Linked DNA regions of Homo sapiens: region 2 is linked to region 1. The links come from fine-mapping of genetic effects on gene expression. A gene starts in region 1. The other region holds a variant in brackets. All regions are shown on one strand. Distances are between the middles of the regions.

Region 1 (9,624 bases):
CTTAAGACTCCAGGTTGGCCAGGTGCAGTGGCTCACGCCTATACTCCCAGCACTTTGGGAGCCAGAGACAGGAGGATCGCTTGAGTCTGGGAGTTCAAGACCAGCTCTGGCAAAATGGCAAGATCCCAACTCTACAAAAAATTTAAAAATTAGCCAGGTGTGGTGGCATGTGCCTGCAGTCTCAGCTACTCGGGAGGCTGAGGCAGGAGGATTGCTTGGGCACAGGAGTTTGAGATTGCAGTGATCTTTGATCATGCCACTAGTGGTGGCCAGGGCTGGTGGTGTTGGCAGGGCCTTTCAGGGAGAGGGAGGTCCCCTCACAGGGCCAGCTCTGCCCTGTGTTCTTGGCTTGGGGCCCCAAATCTGGTTCTCTAGCCCACTCAGTGATTCCATAAGCTCCCCAATATCTTTTTAAAAAATTTCTTCTCTGCTTAACCTAGCAGAGTTGCTTTTTGAAAGGCAGCAGAACCTGGGTTTGAATCCTTGTTCTGTTACAAGTGACTTCATTGCTCCACACCTCAGTTTCCCCATGTGTAAAATGAGGATAATGCCATGTCTCTGTCACTCGATGGTGCAAGGATTAAATGAGTTAAACCACAGTACAAACATGTGGAAGCTCAGCCACTGAAGCGCCAGCACAGGTTGTGTAGAGAACACCCAAGGAGACTCGTGTGCTTAACTTGGCTCTGCCACTGACTAACATGTGTGGCCATGCGCTAGTCCCTTCCCTTCCCTTGGCCCTGCTGCATCTGGAAATAACTCTGGGTAAGATGGCTCAAGGCTCTGACCCAGCCTCCCAAACTCACACACTGTAGCTATTTGCTAACCCCACATCCTGAGGACTTCTAAACGCCTTATCTCCACTCTTGGTGCTCTCTTGAGCTTTTCCCCCACCCAACCAGCTGCTTCCTGAACATCTCCACTCAGCTGTCCCTCCAGCTCCTCAAAGTCAACACATCCCCAACTGTGCTCAGCTGTTTCCTGTGTGCCCAACCTTTACCTTGCCATCTCTCACCATATCTTGTCAATTTCAAATGCCCAAGGTTGCTGGCGTCTTCAACCTCATTTGCTCTTACAGCCTGCGGTCTACCTGGGTCTGTGCAGAAATCCCCTTACTTCTCCTTTCCCTCCAGAGGACAGTGTGCTCCCAAAATTGAGCTTCTCTGCTCACAAGCTCACCCAGGCTCCCTCTCCAGATGGTGAAGCCCTGTAGAATGCCCTGCATCACCTGACCTCCATGCCCCTCCCCAGCCTCATTGTTTCTTTCTCCTACTCCCTGTTCTCCATACAACACACTCCTCCCAAGGCACAAAGCCCAGCCTGTCTCCTTGCCTTTGCTCAGTCCCCTCAGCCTAGAGGGCCTCTCCTGTGCCTATTACACTCACCTGCTAAAATCCAACCTGTCCCCAGAAGTCCAGCTCAGAGGGCTAAGTCCTCCCTGATCCTCCAGGCCGGAGGTATGAGTCTTCTTTCCAAACCTCTAAGCTCTCCTCGCAAACCGAATGCCTCTTGTGGAGGGAGTACTGCCCCATGGTTAATAGCGAGGGCTGTGGATTCACCTGCCTGCACTGGTGCATAGGAGCTGATTAGGACTTTCAATAAGTTACTTCATGTGTCTGAGACTCAGTGTTCTTGCCTGCAATATGGGCATAAAAGCAGTATGTATCTCAGAGGGAGTGTGGGCGAGTGGGATTATGGATGCCTGAGATATGGATACAAAGCTCTCTCAGTGGTAGCTGGCACCTGGAAAATGATCAACACTTAGCTTTGTGGCAGATTCTCTGTGCTCAGCTGAGTTGAAAAATCGCAGAGACTAATATCTAAACTGCTATCCCCACCCGGGCGATTCCTGCTCTCTAAGGAATGAGGCTTCAATGCGGGTTTGGCTATAGCATAACAAAATTGGGGCAGGAAGTGGAGCCTGAACGCTCCTGTTCTTCCCCTAGGCTTCTCGTGGAGGTTTCTCCCTCTGTCATTCTTTTTAAAGGAAGGATCCCAAGGAAAAGGCAAACAGAGAAGCAGGAAGCAGCACTGATGTGAAGAAAGGGGAGGAGGGAAATCAATCATGCATTTCCACAGCCATTAGCAGCCTCTGCTCTTCCCACCTAGGCTGACCTCACACCCCAGGTGCTGGTTAGTGGTAAGTGCTCCCCACCCTCCACAAGCTCCTCTCATTCTCCAGCAGTTGCAGTGCAGGCAGCACTTTGGTCTAAATGAAGAAAATTGTTCATTAGATACCAGGGGCTAATTGGCCCTACTTTTACCAGCCTGGGTGGTGCCCCAACCTTTTATCAGCTTCTCATTAGACTTAATTGATATGAATGGCCTGATATGTGCTGTCTGCAGCACCTTTGGGAAGTCTTCCTTGTCACCCCGCCCCCACACCCCAATCCCATAGACCTTGTGCTTCCCCCCTAATTAGGGCATTCATCATTCTGTTCTTTTTGTCTGTTGCAATTGTGAGTGAGAGCCTCAATACAGTGCCTGTGCAGTGGCTGGCACATAGTGGGTATTCCACAAATTGACTGAGTATTACTGTACTCAGCTTGGCTATGAAGAAGAGACCCAGGCCCTGGGAAGGGGGGGCCCCCAGGCTGGTCGGGGAGAACAAGGCATAGCCCAGGCTGGGGTAAGAACGAAAGCAGAGCTCCCTGAGGTTCACAGGCTGTGGGCTGAGATGCTCCATCACCCCACTTTACCCTGGATGGCCCTTAATCTCCGGGCCCAGTCTGAATCAGGCATGCTGATCTCCATTGCCCCACCCCACACAGCTCACGGAATCCTAAAAATACAGTTTTATAAGGTCAGGACTAGGAAGGCACAGGGAAATCATTCCTTCTGCTTGCACACCTCCTAGCTTGGGGATCTTACTTCCTTCTAGGGAGATCTGTTTTAATCATGGATGGGAAGCATGTGCTCCCTGGGCCCACCAGAGCCCTCAGCTGGTGCAGCCAGGAGAGTGCGGCTTGGCATCAGGTGCAGGTACATCTCTCTTGCCTTCTAACCATCTCTCATGGCAAAGCCCTCAGCCTCAGCTTCTGAAAGCTTGTGTGTGTGTGTGTGTGTGTGTGTGTGTGTGTGTGTATGTGTGGTGGAGGTGGAGCTGGGCTACCAATCAGACACAGACACTCTGAGGATGTTTCCAGGATGAGAGGCTTCAGACAAACAATCCAGATAGGGTCTCAGCGTGCTTGACAACTGGGGTCCGGCTGGAGATATCAGGGGGGTTCTAGGTGGGGCAGTGATTGCTGCCCCCACAGCCTCCCGCAGACCACACACCTGGCTCCCATCCCATGTTCCACAGGGCACAGACAGGCACCTACCCACACGCACACACCCAGAACCCACACTGAACGACCCCACCTGGAGGCTGTGTAACTCCAGCAACCTCTACTGCCCTTTTCCCCAGAGCCTCAAGCCAGTCCATGATTTGCCAGGAGGAAGGCAGGCACAGGTTGTTCTCCTTGAGAGATGGTGTTGGGGTGCTGATTCAGACACCACTCATTATGGGGGCGCAGGAATAATGCTGCCCACAGCCCCTGACTCAGCCCAGCAGGTCAGTCCTGGGACCTCGGATTAGGGAAGATGCAACACCCCGCACCCTCTGGCTTAGCAGAACCTACGCCTGCATGTCCTCCCCACGAAACATGCGCTCGCCCCAGCCCTCCTGCCTCCTACCCTCCTCCTCCCCTCTGGTAGTAGGGTCTGGTCACTGCACTCACTCTGGGGGATTTGGGACTTAGCATATCCGCCCTCCTGGGATAGGTCCCCCTCCTGGGCAGGGGAAGCATTGTCTAAACAATGAAGCCCTAATGGGGAACTTCAGGCAACGGGAACCTACAATGAGGGAAGGAGGTTTACACTCCAAGAGGAGGAAGTATTTCCTTCTCCCCTTTTTGGGCTGTCACCGCATGGAGCACGGGAATTGTGGGCAAATCACTGGCTTACTGAGATTAGACGCTGTATTGGGGGTAGAAGCAGAAGGCGCGCCCCCAACACTGTAAGGGGTCCTTAACGCCCGCGGTCCGCGGTACCGCGGCCGTCAGCAGCTTTGTACCGCTGGGTCCGGAATCCTCTTTACTCCCTAAACCGCCTTCTCAGGAGGCCGGTGTAGAGCAGGCAGCGAGGGCCGGGGGCACTCACGGGTCGTGTTGTACTTGACGCCGTTGAAGTACTCGGGGCACGGCCTCTCCACGAGGGCTCCGGCAGCGCTGCGGGGCCAGCACGTTCCGATCTGGTCCAAGGTCGTGTTGCAGTAGGAGTAGGGACCTGGCGGCGGGAGAGAGCGCAGTAGGGCTCAGAGGGGCCCGCAGGGACGCGGGGCTCTCGGAGCGCGGGGTCAGGGGCGCACCCAGCGCGCGAGAGAAGGAGCCCGCGCAGCCTCCGACCGCTCGCCTCCCGCCTACCCTCGGGGTCCAGGGGTGGCCCCCAGCCGTCCAAGAGCAGCTCTTCAGCCAGCGCCAGGCTGCAGTTGGCCTCCAGCAGGCTGTGGAGCAGTGCCGCGTCCATCGCGTCCCGCAGCCGCGTGCGGAGAGGGAGTGGGAGTGCGCGCCCGGCGTGACTGCGAGGGAGTGGACGCGAGAGTGAGCGGCCGAGAGGGCGCGGGGTCCTGGCCCCCGCCAGCCCAGCCCCGATCTCCCGGGCAGCCTTTGGGCGCCACCTCCGGTCGCCCAGAGCTGTCAAGTGGGGACCTTCCCGGAGAGGAGCCGCCGAGTGCACGGAGCTGCGGGTACAGCCGCTCCGCCGCGGCCAATGGCTGCGCCGGGGGGCGGGGCCGGGCGGCTCCTCTCGGAGGGGCTCAGTCTCCAGCCCCCGGGCCCTCCACCCTGCCCAAAGTACGGCTTCTCAGTTCGCAGCTCTCTTCCACTCGCGGCGTCCAGAGGAGGGCGGTGGGCTGGAGAGCGTGGGCCTGGGGTGACGGAATGCTCTGTGCGGGGATCGCAGGCCCCCGAGCTGCAGGGGGCAGCAAAGCGCGCCCACCTGCCCGCCTGCCCGAGGAGAACACCGCAGCTCTGCTAATCGAGGGACAGCCGCAACCCAAAGTTCGGCAGCTTTCCGCCTGAGCTTCCCCTCCCTGAGCGAGGACACTGGAGGGAGGCAGAGACGGAGAGCCCATGGGCAGATCTGCATCCTCCAAAAGCCTCCATAGCCTCTGGGAAGGAAATGTATCGAGGAGGCCTGGAGGGAAGCAGGGAGACACCCATGAGTCTAATGAGATCAAGTGGCCTGAGTGGGTTGAAGTCCTTGGATCAGACCGTGGAAGCTGGAATGGAGAGAGATTTCGGAGGGGCAGCCAGACCTGGTGAGGAGGAACTGGAGTGGGTGGCTGGTTTTAAGTAGGAGCCCAGAGGCAGGGATAACATCAGGTCTCCTGCTTGAGTGACTGGGTGGCCATTTAATCAGATGGAGTAAGTCTAGGGGAGAAATTGGCTGAAATTATCTGGAAGGCTTTATACACCCAGTTGTTAGTGCCTTGGGCACCAGAAAGAATAAAGGAAGAAGTGAGAATGTGTCTCTCTTCCTCAAGGCTTGGGCAGGGCTTCACCTGACCCTGGTTTCCACACCAGTAGCGGGGCAGGGGCGGGGAGAATCAGGCCCCACAGCAGGTGTGGAGGAGCTGGAAACCTCCCCAGAGAACTTGCCCAGGCCCCCCACCCCACCCTGGCCCAGAATGCCTCCTTGGTGATCTGCTGTGGCTGCACCCTCAGAGTGCCCAGGGCGGGCCTGCTGTGTCTGCCAGCTGAGTGGGGCATTGGGCTCGGGAAGCAGGGCCTGGGGTAAGGCATGCTTCCACTCAGGCTGCATTTTGGTCCAGCCTCTGACTCTGCTCTCCCTGCCATGGTACCCCAGGCAGGATGCTTGCCCTCTCTTCTGGAGCTTTCTCCATCAGTGAAATCTTCCCCGAGGCCCCTCTCAGCTCTGAGACTCTCTGGTTCTGAGTTATGAGACGGAGAGTCTGGGGAAGACATACATGTGTGTTGTGTGTTGTTTGTTTCTATCTTTAGAGGGCAAGGAGAGCTGGAACCTAGTCTCAGAAACCAGTCCTGTTCCCCTGCCATCCTCCACATAAACCTAAGCTGCTAGGAAAGGCTGAAACCACCATGAACTAGCACCATGCCCTGGGCAGAGAGAGGCAAAGCAGCAGGCAGGCTGCTTTTGTGTGCTCCGCTCTCACCAGCCTCCATATTAATGGTGCTGTCACTGCCCAGGCAGAGCGAGTGAGACCACACTAAGACCAGGGCTGAGCCCTGGAATCTCTCCAGGGCCTGCTGACTGGCAGGAACAAGATGCTGAGCAGCCAGCCAGGTCTACCCTCTGCCTCCTGAATGGACAGTGAGAGCCCAGGCTCAGCTCTGGGCAGCTGCAGAGGTAGAGGTTCCTTGGTCTTCATATTATCCAGTGCCAGGAGCAGGGGAGGACCTAGGCAGAGTCCTACCCTCCGCTCCTAGACTGAGCCCTGTTACCCAGGGTCCCACACAGGCCAGAGGGTGGCTGGCCAGGTCAGCCCATGTATTCACAGGGCAATAGTGTCCCTCATATACAAGGGATAGCCCTTCACACAGCACGGTGCAGCACAGAGGAAGGGAGAAATCCTAAGCCAAGCTTAAGTTATTATCCTTGTTCATTACTGCAGCCACCACCTAGGTGGTGCCTAAAGCACCTATAGATGCAGCTATGTCAAGAGGTGGTGTGCTCCCAATGACCAGAGGCCAGGGACTTCTCATCTCATGCAGATTTCTGCAGAACAGAGGGTTGGCCTGGGTGAACTGGATTGCTCTTAACTGGGAGAGCTCACATACCAAAGATTCTTCTGGGAAGTGACCATTTCAGTGGCAGAGTCAAAGGCTGTTCTGCATCCTGAATGAGCAGTTGGGGTCTGAGCACATACCCACAGACCCACAGACCCGAGGTCCCCTGGATGTGGGGCCATTTCTTCATGGATCTTATTATTATAGGCACAGTTGTCATTCGAGATGTGACAGAGGGAAAACTAGAAAAGGTAGCAGTTTGGGAACAAATTGATTTTACAGCTCACTTTAGTGTCTGCAAACAGGCAAATGAGGAAGAAATTGGGAAGAGCCCCAAAATTCCCTCAATTTTACTAAATCCAAGTACAAACAAACAAAGACAGGGGCATTTTTGCTAACTAAAGAAGCAGAGGTAGATTAGAGGCTTTGGGATAGTGATGGGTTCCCAGCGCTGCAGGCCAGCCCCATCCCAGCTGGAGGCCAGGAATTAGGGGATAAGTATTTGGAACAGTTTGTGTGTCCCCAAGCTGTTGGGGACAGGTTGGCAAATAGGTTCAGGGAAGTGTGACAGGTACTTTGGAAGACCCCTGTGTACCATGAGCAGCAGAGTAAGGCAGGTGCCTCTGGTGCCCTGCATCCCATCCCATGGCCCACCTCTGATGTCAGCTGCAGCAGCAGTGGACAGTTCCAGGCCAGCTCAGACACACTTGCAAAGCCTAATACATGGCATCAAACAGGCATGTAGGCACAACAGAATCACACACAGAGCCACAGTTATGCATCTTCACCATGCACACACATTCTCTCTCTAATTCATCCCCTACCACTCAAATGTCAGCTGGAAAACAGGATTTAAAGGGACAGGATGCATCTTTGCTTCTCTAAGGGACTGTCCTTGGTTAGACTACATAGAGAGGGAGTCTATTCAGGCACAGCTGGAATAGTCGTGGTGTTTCCTGGGAATTACGACGGGGTTGCTGAGGGCACAGAGGTTCCAGAGGGGCCTGAAGGTGCTGCACTTTTGCCCTGTAGCACTGGAGACAGGGGTCCCAGGCCAGGCACCCCCTCCTCACCCTATCCTACTCCACTGCAGGACAGAGGAATTGGCCTGGTGTCTTCATGTCAAACCATGGGACTAAGCTGTGGGGACAGAAAGGACTCTCAGTGACATCCAATCCCACATTCTTGTTTTACAGATGGACAATAGGATTCCCAGACAAGCAAAAGAGGTTTCCCTCCCTTACTTCTCCCAGGCCATCCTCATCTCTGCAGCAGCCCAAATGGGCTCCCTGTCTCCTCATGGCAGATAAAACGATGTTTTATAATTACGATCCTGTCACTCTTCCTCATAGGAGTGCCGCCAACCCATTGCCCTTGAGATGGAGACCACCTCTTTGGTATTGCAAAGAAGGTCCTTCGTAATCATCTATCCCTCATCCTCACCCTTCTGCTCCATTTGAAAGGCCCTCCAGAACAACATGTCATTCCTGGGAACCATCTTTGGTATTGCAAAGAAGGTTCTTCATGATCATCGTCCCCCATCCTCACCCTCCTGCTTCATTTGAAAGGCCCTCCAGAACAATGTGTCACTACCAGAAACCATTCGCTATCTCTGTTCCTTGTTTGTATTTCTGCACTGGAAATGGCCTTACAGCTCCACACTCATCCTTCAGACATGCAGCTCCTTGGTGACCCCATCTGCTGGGTGCTGGCCTATGTCACATCCAGGTTGCTTTTTATTCATTGTCTCATCTACCAGCCCATGCCTCCCCAAGGGCAGGGCTGGTCCTGGTTCACTAACCCATCCCCAGCACCCATTGGAATGCTCTAGACTTCAGCCCAGTGAGTCACTAAGAAAGGACAGATACCTTGGCAGAAGAGCTGAGGAAAGCCCAGGTCCCTGTCTTCAGGCCAAGGCTCTCTTCCCATTTGACCAACCCTGGCATATGTGTGTGTGTTGCATTGAGGAATTATTTCAAGGTATCTTTGAATCCATTCGGATTCTTGGCCAGGTGCAGTGGCTCACACCCATAATCTCAGCACTTGGGGAAGCCAAGGTAGGCAGATTGCTTGAGCACAGGAATTCAAGACCAGCCTACAAAAAATAATAAAAAATAAATAAATAGTCCATTTGGATTTTTATATCATCTATGGATAGGATAAATAATATGCCTCATAATATATGCCCTAATATTTTTCAAATATATGTAGCTGCCTCTGTGATGAATAAAATAGAAATAATCTATTTAAACCCTGCCTGAAGTCATAATTGCTCTGTGATTTTGCATGCGTTGCCTTTTTCAGGGGCATACAATTGAATTGATCATAGATTCGTGACCCTTTGTCATTATTAGTCTGTGCATTAGCCCATGCATGGCTTAACTTTATTTTTTAGTCTTTATTTTATTTAGTCTTTTTATTGTATGTAGTAGACAATATAATAAGCCTACCACCCAATTGGAAACTACATCATTACCAGTCACTTATCTATTTATTTCTATTCTCCTTCCCCAGAGGGAACATTCCCTTGACTATTGCATTTGTCATTCTCTGGCTCATATTTTTTTTCAGTTTTCTCACAGGTATGTACATCTAAAAGATATAGTGTTTGGTTTTACTTGGTTTTGAACTCTGCGTTAGACATGATGCATTTCCCCAAGCAGTGGACACTGAAAAGAAGGTCATTATCAATTTGGGGACTTGAGAAATGATTCCTGAAGCTCGAGGGGCTCCCTAGCAGCCTCTACATCCACCATCCGGTCATGGTTCATGTGGGGTGATGCATCCCCAGAGTGGCTGCTAGGCAGCGTCACAAGCGATGCGGTGGTTGAATATTTAATGACATGGGGAAATGTTCACTCTGAGTTATAAGAGG
Region 2 (9,624 bases), 33 kb after region 1:
GATCATGGGGAACTACATGTATGAATCTAGGCCCAGTGGTTAAATCAGCGCCTGGCCCATCGTACACCCTCAGTCAAAGACTAGCTGCTACTGTGACAGGCTTCAAGTGGAAGAGTGAAAGCAAAATATGGCTTGGATGGAAGAGGTCACCCTGGCCACCCTGCTCCTGATGATTGGCACCAGAAGTGACTTTGATCTTTTACAGATATTTGCACTGTTGATGAAAATCTAGCAAGAGTTGGCAAATTAATACTGTATACAAAAATAGAGAATTTTGCAAGTAACTTTAGAGAACATCTAGCTTAATTCCCCTCATTTTAGATGTGCAAAGTGAGGCCCAGAGAGGGGAAGGGCTTGCTCAGGCTTCTACAGTTGGTCCCTGTCAGAGCTGGGACTTAAGTCCCTCTAGGGAAGAGGCTACGCTGCTTCTCCAGGTTCATTTCTTTATCCATGGCTGTGACCAAATAAAAGATTCAAAGGTCAGAGAATCAACATACTGCCTTTGGGAAAAGAAATCACAGCTCAAGTTGGCACGTTTGGCGCTGAGTCACCAGCATACACTGCTAGGGAGGGACAGCAGCCATCAGTTTAATAACCTCTAAGCCATGTGACTAGTTAACCAGGGAATTCTTTTTTTTTTTTAATTATTATTTTTTGAGATGGAATTTCATTCTCATTGCCCAGGCTGGAGTGCAATGGCGCAATCTTGGCTCACTGCAACCTCTGCCTCCCAGGTTCAAATGATTTTCCTGCCTCAACCTCCTGAGTGGGACTACAGGCATGCGCCACCATGCCTGGCTAATTTTGTATTTTTAGTAGAGACAGGGTTTCTCCATGTTAGTCAGGCTGGTCTCGAACTCCCGACCTCTGGTGATGCGTCCACCTCGGCCTCCCAAAGTGCTGGGATTACAGGCGTGAGCCACCACACCCAGCCAACCAGGGGATTCTTTCTGAGAAGTTCTCACCATGATTTTCTTCCTGGTCATTGATGACTGATCCCATGGGTAATATGTGTTTCTAATCATTAGAACCATGGTGATGACATTGCAGGAACCAGAGATGCTTTTCTACCCAGTTCTCAGGGAGGATGCATGACACCCTGAGAAATATGATTTGTATCTTAGCTAGTTAGTGGTAGATTTAAAACCAGAACCCAGAACTGCTAACTTCCCAACTAGGAATCTAACTACAACAAAAGAGTACCTCTCTAAGCAAGCCTTCTGCCAGTGATTTTCTGCATTGCAGTGTTTTTACTTTTTATTTTTTGAGACAGAATCTTGCTCGTCACTCAGGCTGGAGTGCAGTGATGCGATCTTGGCTCACTGCAACCTCCGCCTCACAGGTTCAAGTGATTCTCATGCTTCAGGCACCCAAATATCTGGGACTAGAGGCATGAACCACCATGCCTGACTAATTTTTATATTTTTAGTGGAGATGGGGTTTTACCATGTTGGCCAGGCTGGTCTTGAACTCCTGGCCTCAAGTGATCCACCTACCTCGGCCTCCCAAAGTGTTGGGATTACAGGTTTGAGCTACTGTACCTGGCCAGTGTTTTGTAAAATATTTCAGAAAATCCCCCAACTCTGGCCCTTATAAAGACAAACCCCATAGATACAGGGAAGAGGATTTGATGCCCATGTAGATTTGAGGCTGTAGATATAGATAGAGAGGCAAGAGATTACTCCCCCAGAGAAAGCTAGGTTAAGCTGTTGGTCATCTTTGACTTGTGACCGGCTCTGAGATTACAGAAGTTCTAACCTAGGACTACTCAAAAGAGGATGATCCTAGATGCTGCCAACTTGTGAAATTTTGGCCACTAGCCTTCAAGAAGTACAGAAATTGAGAGTAAGTGTTTAGAAACTTTTATGGCAAGTGATAGAGTAGTTTTGTGTTTGCTGAATCTAATAAGTACAATGTGAACATACATTTTGTAGATCTTTATGGTTTGTTTCATTTTTTTCTGAAGATCTGTTTTTGTTGTATTTCTCAGAAATATTCATCCACCATTGATTGACAGTAATGAAAGAAAATTCTGGCCCTTCACCTTAGGTGAGGTTTGAGAAGCTCTGCCGTCTAGGTCTCTTCTCCAGAGATTCTGAGGCAGTCGGTCAAGGATGCAGGCTGAGCACCTGCTGGGGTCAGGGCTATCCAGGTGATTCCACTGTGCAGCCAGGATTGAGAAATTCTGCCATCCCAGATCAGCAGCAGCGGCATCACCCGGGAACATGCTAGAAATGCAAACTCTAGGGCCTACCTCAGAGTCACTGAATCAGAAGTTCTGGGGGTGGGGGAGCAGCAATCTGTGTTTTAAAAGTCCTCAAGTTTATTCTAATGCAAGCTGGCATTTGAGAACTATTGCCCTGGACTAAGTTCCTGTCTCCCAGCATTGCTGTGGGTCTGGCCTGACAGGCAGAGATGTGCACATACTGATCCAGTGAACATCTAGAACTGAAGCACAAACATGCCCTCCAGCTGCCCAGAACCTTTCTCCTCCCTATACAAGTGTGCCACCCAAGATTCAGCCTGAAGAGCAGGGCGGAAATCTCTTCATATCCCTGAAGACGATCTCTTTCTTCTTTCTTCTCTCTGATGAGAAATCCAGCATTACCTATTTTTTACTTATTCATAACTCACTCATTCATTTACTGAATCATTTGTTGAACCAAATATTTTTGAGTTCTCTCTGCATGCAGGTGTGATGTGGGTCTGGGATACAGAGTTGAAGGAAAGATGTAGGTAGAAAGGATAGGTGCAGGGAGTAAGGGGATTTACCTGACACCTGACTAGTCCTGGTTCTGGCCCTGCTTCCTATGAGTAAGTCACGGCCGTGTTCTTATCTATAAAATGGGTGAAGTTTGGACTAGATGAATCCTTAGGGTCCTTCCATCTGTAGTGACCTGGGCCTCCAAAGGAGGGCTAGTGGCTGAGGCACAGCACTAGGCCCATAGCAAGTAGGCACATAGCAAGTTCTCAATCATCATTGGAGGAGTCAATGGATGGATGGGTGCCAAAATGGTTGGATGTTATGAGGACGAGCATAAAGTCTTTCTGGGGGCAGAATAAGTCATGTGTGTGTGTGTGTGTGTTTGTGTGTGTGTTTGTGCGCTCCTGAGCCGTGAGCAATGGTGACCCATCAAGTCCTGCATCCCTGCTGTCCTGGTCCTGGCTACCTAGCTTCACAGGCAGAGCAACCCAAGCAATCAGAGCATGGGGGCGGCTAGGGGCAGGGCAAACTCTCCAAGGTTGCCCAATCCCATTTCCTGTCTGAGCCAGAGGCTCCCTATGCAGCTCCCCAGCAGCAAAGCACCCTGCTTAGGCTTGTACAGGTCCTCCTCATCAGCTACTCAGCTCCCACCAGCATTTTGTTGGGGGGATGGTTCTCCTCCAGGCTGCCTTCCCTAACTGCGCCAGCCCTCGGTAATCTCCCAGCCCTGTGCTCCTATAGCCCCCGAAGTCTTGCTCTCCAGCCCTTGCTCTCTCCCCAGCCTGGACTCTTCTCAGCTGCCCCCACTATCTTGGAAGCTCCATGGACACTCATAAATACTTACTTCAAGAATTATTTTTAATAACATAAGAAATACATAAATACATTATCATTATTAAAAAATAGAAATAAGACAAATGTCCCCCTTGGCCCTCCCAATACCATCTGCCTCCCCTGAGAAGACTTCTTATCAGTTTCCTGAGTTTCTTTCCACACTTAAAATTTTGCATTTACATTTGAATTTTTGTATTTCCATTTTTTGTGAGGGTGTTTACACAAATATACTTTATGGATGCTCTTTTCACTCCGCAATGTGTCTTAGAGAACTTTCCAAGCCAGTAGTTTTGTGCTGTATATCACATGTGTGTCATCTATATGTTACCTATGTTATGGCATAAATATGGCATAAAATACCATTTATGTTAACAGCTGCCTTTTGTACCAGAGCAAGGATACATGCCCTTATTAGTGGAGGTGTGGTACATTTTCAGTTTCACAGTGATGAACTCTGCTGCAGAGAACATTTTTCATGTGCCCCCTTGTGTAACATATGTAAATATTTCTCCAAGTTGTAAACTCAGAAGTGGAATTGCTGAATTGGAGGCTATGCACACTTTGTATTTCAATAATGCTGCTAAACCACCCTTCAAATTGCTTGCCTCCCAGCACCTGAGGCCCCCAATATGTCCCACCCCAGTCTATAACAACCCTCAATCTTCATTTTGCCAATCTGATAAGCAGGAAGGTGAATCTCATTCTTGCTTTAATTGGCATGTCTCTGCTTACTCATGAGGTAGAGCATATTTTCATATTGGCCGTTGGTAGAGGAACTGCTTGTGGAATAAATTAGGTGCTTAGTAAAGACACTGGTAAGGGAGGAGAAGAGTGGTGTGGCTCTGGGCAGGTTGTCTGTGAGGTTCCAGATCACTGACCTAGTCCAGGAGGGATGTTCATGGGAGCAGGCTGGGGTGCAGGTGAGGAAGACATTTCTGACACATAGAATGACAGAGTGGCACAGCCAGAGACCAGGCTGGGGCCCTCACCTCACCTCCTAACTGGATGTCCCTCACTATCAGAACTGTCACTGTCTGAACTCAGGAGCCCAATAGATGTGCATAGTGAGGATTATAGTGTTTTTGACTACAACTTGCTTCAATTATTTATTGCCGCATAACAAACTACCCCAAGATGTAGTGGTAAAAAAAAAATAAG[A/T]TATTTGCTCATGTTTCTGCAATTTGAGGAGGGCTCAATGGGGGCAGCTCAGCTGTCAACGTGTTACCGAATGTCAGGGGTTCAGCCTAGGTTGCTTGCTGCGCAGAAAGCCAATCACTGAGACACCAAGTATTGCCAGGAAAGAAAGGCTTTATTATGGGTGACATCCACCAGAAGATGGGAGACAAGTCTCAAATCTGACTTTCTCGCTGACCAAAGTTAGGAGTTTGTAGAGCAGGGAAGGAAGAGGAGCTAGTGAACAGGCAACAGATGGTCAGACGAGAGGTCTGGCCTCTCATTGTCTGGATAAGGTGATCTGGAATGTATCAGTTTCTTGATCCTGTCTGGGAGGCCTGATGGTCGATTTCCTGAGAAAGGAACTCATAAGACAAATGTAAGTTTCTCAAGCTTCAGTTCTATGGGAAAATTGGGCCAGTTTCAAATGGACAGTTCCATGAGTTGTCTGCTGGGGTTGGAACATTCAAGAAGGGTTCTTCATTTACTGTCTGGAAACTGGGCTGGGATGGCTGGACTAGCCAGGGACAACTCTCTCTATGTGGTCTCTCCAAGTGGGTTAGCTCAGGCTTCCTCACAGCATAGTGGTTTCAGGGAAGTGACACTTTTTACATGGCAGCTGGCTCCTCCAAGAGTGCAAAAGTGGAAGCTGCCAGGTCTTCTTGATACCTGGACCAGGAATGCCCAGAATGTCATTGATGCTTCATTCATTGCAAACCAGCAACAGGACGGGTGGAGGGGAAATAGTTTCCACCTCTTTAGCAGAGGAGTAGCAAGGGCCCTTTGTAAAAGAGCACGTGGGCCCTACCCCACATGGAAACACACTTGAAATCTTTTCTAAGCAAATTGAGAAAAAAAGGAGAATGCATTATAAGGACATGGGGTGTCTCAGGTAACCCCGGGCTGGAAATGCAGCCGTGGATTGGGAAGAGCCATCAGTAACCCAGGCTGCACCTCCCTCGCCTCCCTGAGGGCACCCTGGTCTCCCTCAGGCGTCCTCCTCCTCTCCCTGTGAACCAGCTTTCTGTGCTTTTTCATGTCCATGGACTCCATAGGTTTCCCCAGAACAGCACCCTGAGCCCCCCAGTTTTCAAGTTTCTGAATGTTTTTCTGAATCCCACTTCCAAACCCCAGATTGACCCAGCCTGGTCCAGTTGTTCTAGATGAGGAAAGTGAGGCTGAGAGACTTCAAAGGTATTGCCCAGCACAGCTAAGCGGCAAAGCTAGGTTCTGAATGTGGGTCCTCCATCTCACCCCAGAGTGAAGGCTCAGTGCAGGCTGAGCACTCACAGGGCCCTGCCCTTCTTCTTCCTGCAGCCCTTGTCAAGCTCAGATCTGTGGGGGCTGAGCAGAGCTGGGTCTGCCAGGCCAGGCCTCTGCCTTCTTGGCAGCCTCCTTTGTGCCCTGCTTGGAGGGGGCAGCATCCTGCCATGTGGAAGAGGTGGGTCCATTTTGAGTGTAACTCTTCTAGAGGAAGGGCTTCACTCACCCCAACTGAGTGCCTTCACTCTAGCTCCAGTGTGGGCTGGAGGTTCTGAGGCTCAGTGCAGAAAGGGGCAGGCAGGAAAGCTCACTTCTGCATCTGCTCAGTGTAGGCCATCCTTCTTGCTGCCACGCTGATGGAAAGGCTAGCTGCACCTCTCTGGGTCTGCCTGCCTGGCTGGGATGAGATTTTCCAGGGCTGCCTCTGACCTGGCACTCTCCCCTACAGTCTGTGCAAAAACCTAGCTCATGGCACTACAGTCACCTGTACCACTTTCTAAGCTTTCTCCCTGAAACAAGGGTTGGCCTGTTTTAAGGGACCCCTGTGCTGCACATCATCTGACGCTTCCTCTTTGCAGGGCCTTGGCGGATGTCAGCCATAGCCTGGAATGTCCCCCACCCCCAGCTCTACCTAAGGACACCCTCTAAGACTCAAGGAAAAGGCCACCTCCTTCATGATGCCTCTCTAGGTTTCTGAGAACTGTTTCCACTTCCATTTGGATGTCTGCCTCCTTTCAACTTTGATTAGGGATTTTGGACATAGGCAGCAAGGCCTGGAATATCCTCACAATATATCATTTATTCATTCAACAACTATTTATTGAATGCCTACTCTGCGCAGGCACTGCTGTAGCACTGGGAAACAGAAGAGCTATAACTCACTGCCCTCATAGATCTGAGATTCTGCTATGGGAAGTTGACAATAAACAAGATGACTAAGTTAAGTGCATGGTGAGTCACATCTTGGTAGGTGCCATGGGGATAAAGTTAAGGCAGGAAGGGAGATTAGAGTGCCAGGGATAGGGCAGAATGGGCAATTTAAAAGGGGCGGGGGAAGACCTCACTGAGAAGGGGATATCAGAACAAAGACTTGAAGGAGGTGAGGGAGTGGGTCATGAGGCCCTCTGGAGGATGAGCCTGGTAGGGAGCGGCTGCCAAGAGCCTGAGCAGGAGCATGCCTGGCATGTTTGAAGCACAGTGTGGCAAGAGCAGAGAGGAAAAGAGGGAGGGAGATGGAAGGCAGGGCCAGACAAGACATGAAGCAAGGTCATGCAGGGCCCTGTGGGCCATTGTAAGGCCATTGACTCTAACACTGAAGGAAATTGGGTTACTGGGCAGTATCTCTGTTATCTTATTATTAATAATAAAGAAAAGGACACGGTAAGCAACCATGAAATTAATAGTAATTTATAATAATAATTAATATTATTTTTAGTTTTCTCTATCCACCAAGCACTGTGTTAAGCACTTAATATAAATAATCTAATTCTCACAACCACGCTATGTGTTGGTACTCTCATTATTTCTGCTTTGCAAATGGAGAAATTGAGACTCAGGGAGATATAGCAACTTTCCCAAGGTAGAACAGCTAGGAAATCTTGGAATAGGAATTTGAATTCAGGCAGCCTGACTCCTGAAGCCACACCCTGGATCATCTCTTATGCTGCCTTGAATTAATGAATAGGGATTAATTGAATCCTTCCTAGCTGTCATACTGGGATGTTTAGTCCCAAGATGAGACAATGTGGTGCATGCCATGACTGTATCAGAATCCTGTAGATGAGTGCCCATCTATTCATCCATCTGTAGGGAAAAGAAAGAGAGATCAGATTGTTACTGTGTCTATGTAGAAAGGGAAGACATAAGAAACTCCATTTTGACTTGTACCCTGAACAATTGCTTTGCCCTGAGATGCTGTTAATCTGTAACTTTGCCCCAACCTCTTTGCCAATTTTTTCCCAATCTTTTAGATCTGAAGTTCCCTGTTCTGGAAACCATGGGCAGAATTGTTCTATTGTTTGAAATAGCATAATTAGATTTTCTGTAGAAGTTTTAACTCCCCCTCTTCCTGAGAGAATTTTAATGAAGCTGAGATAAGAGGCATATTTACTTTCAGTTTGCCCCATTGTTACCCTGGGTACCTCCAAGCACACAAGCTTACCACAAGGCTGACCATAGACATACTCGGGAATCTCTCCTTGGCTGTCCTCAATGCTCACGTTCTTAGCGTACCTTCACCCTAGAGAAAGGCACCCATGTTGGGCGGCAGATGAAGGGGTGGCCTGCCCCTCCACACCTGTGGGTATATCTCGTCAGGTGGGATGAGAGACTGAGAAAAGAAATGAGACACAGAGACAAAGTATAGAGAAACAACAGCGGGTCCAGGAGACTGGCACTCAGCATACCAAGGACCTGCACGAGTCTCTGAGTTCCCTCAGTTTTTATTGATTATTATTTTCACTATCTCAGCAAGAGGAATGCAGTAGGAAAGCAGGGCGATAATAGGGAGAAGGTCAGCAAGAAAACATGTGAGCAAAAGAATCTGTGTCATAATTAAGTTCAAGGGGAGGTACTATGCCTGGATGTGCACGTAGGCCAGATTTATGTTTCTCTCCACCCAAACATCTCAGTGGAGTAAAGAATAACAAAGCAGCATTGCTGCCAACATGTCTCACCTCCCTCCATAGGGTGGTTTTTCTCCTATCTCAGAATTGAACAAATGTATAATGGGGTTTTATACCAAGACATTCAGTTCCCAGGGGCAGGCAGGAGACAGTGGCCTTCCTCTATCTCAACTGCAAGAGGCTTTCCTCTTTTACTAATCCACCTCAGCACAGACCCTTTACAGGTGTCGGGCTGGGGGACGGTCAGGTCTTTCTCATCCCACGAGGCCATATTTCAGACTATCACATGGGGAGAAACCTTGGACAATACCCGGCTTTCCAGGGCAGAGTTCCCTGTGGCTTTCTGCAGTGCACTGTGCCCCTGATTTATCAAGACTTGAGAATGGCGATGACTTTTATGAAGCATACTCTTTGTAAACATTTTGTTAACAAGTCACATCCTGCACAGCTGTAGATCCCTTAAACCTTGATTCCACGCAACATATGTTTTTGTGAGCTCAAGGTTGGGGCAAAGAGGTTGGGGCAAAGTTACAGATTAACAGCATCTCAGGGCAAAGCAATTGTTCAAGGTACAGGTCAAAATGGAGCTTCTTATGTCTTCCCTTTCTTCATAGACACGGTAACAGTCTGATCTCTCTTTCTCTTCCCTACACCATCCATCCATCATCCATCCATCCATCCATCCATCCGTTCATCCATCATCCATCCATCCATCATTCATGCATCCATTCATCCATCCATCCATCCATCCATCCATCCATCCATCCATCATTCATCCATCCATCCATTCATCCATCCATCCATCCATCCATCCATCCATCCATCCATTTACTCTTCCTTTCCTCCATTTCTCCCTCCCTCCCTCCCTCTCTGTATCTATTCATGCATCAACTCACCCAACTATTTAGCATTCATTGAGGTTTCCTATGTACTCAGACCATGCTGGACCAGGGGTCCTCATCTGTTCCCTGTTGTTATTTTCTTATCCTGTAAAGGAGGGAAGAAGAAACTGAAGAGGAACTTCAG

Direction of the effects. Positions count from the first base shown, and alleles are read on the strand shown. Sizes are in standard deviations (SD) of each study's normalised expression.
As copies of A replace T in region 2, the expression in subcutaneous fat of the gene that starts at base 4,685 in region 1 goes down (large effect, 0.87 SD a copy in TwinsUK).

Evidence for each region. PIP is the estimated chance that this variant, and not a neighbour inherited with it, causes the effect. A credible set is the group of variants that fine-mapping cannot tell apart.
Region 2: its variant is the best candidate, but not a certain one, in a credible set for the expression of CRHR2 in subcutaneous fat (TwinsUK, PIP 0.69).

What each region holds. Positions count from the first base shown.
Region 1 is chr7:30,677,772-30,687,395 of GRCh38, forward strand. It overlaps CRHR2 (corticotropin releasing hormone receptor 2), which reads right to left and starts at 4,685. Exons shown (of 12, transcript NM_001883.5): 1 at 4,407-4,685; 2 at 4,144-4,269. The coding sequence starts at 4,509. LOC124901608 (a long non-coding RNA gene) reads left to right here and starts at 4,848. Exons shown (of 2, transcript XR_007060275.1): 1 at 4,848-5,302; 2 at 7,946-9,000. RefSeq lists a silencer at 4,707-4,756.
Region 2 is chr7:30,710,340-30,719,963 of GRCh38, forward strand. All of the region lies in intron 1 of LOC105375220 (a long non-coding RNA gene), which reads left to right. It overlaps LOC105375219 (a long non-coding RNA gene), which reads right to left. Exons shown (of 4, transcript XR_927156.3): 3 at 9,495-9,585; 4 at 4,829-7,777. Among named protein-coding and RNA genes, the nearest start is that of CRHR2, 33 kb to the left of the region's middle. The variant A/T (reference allele first, on the strand shown) is at 4,697.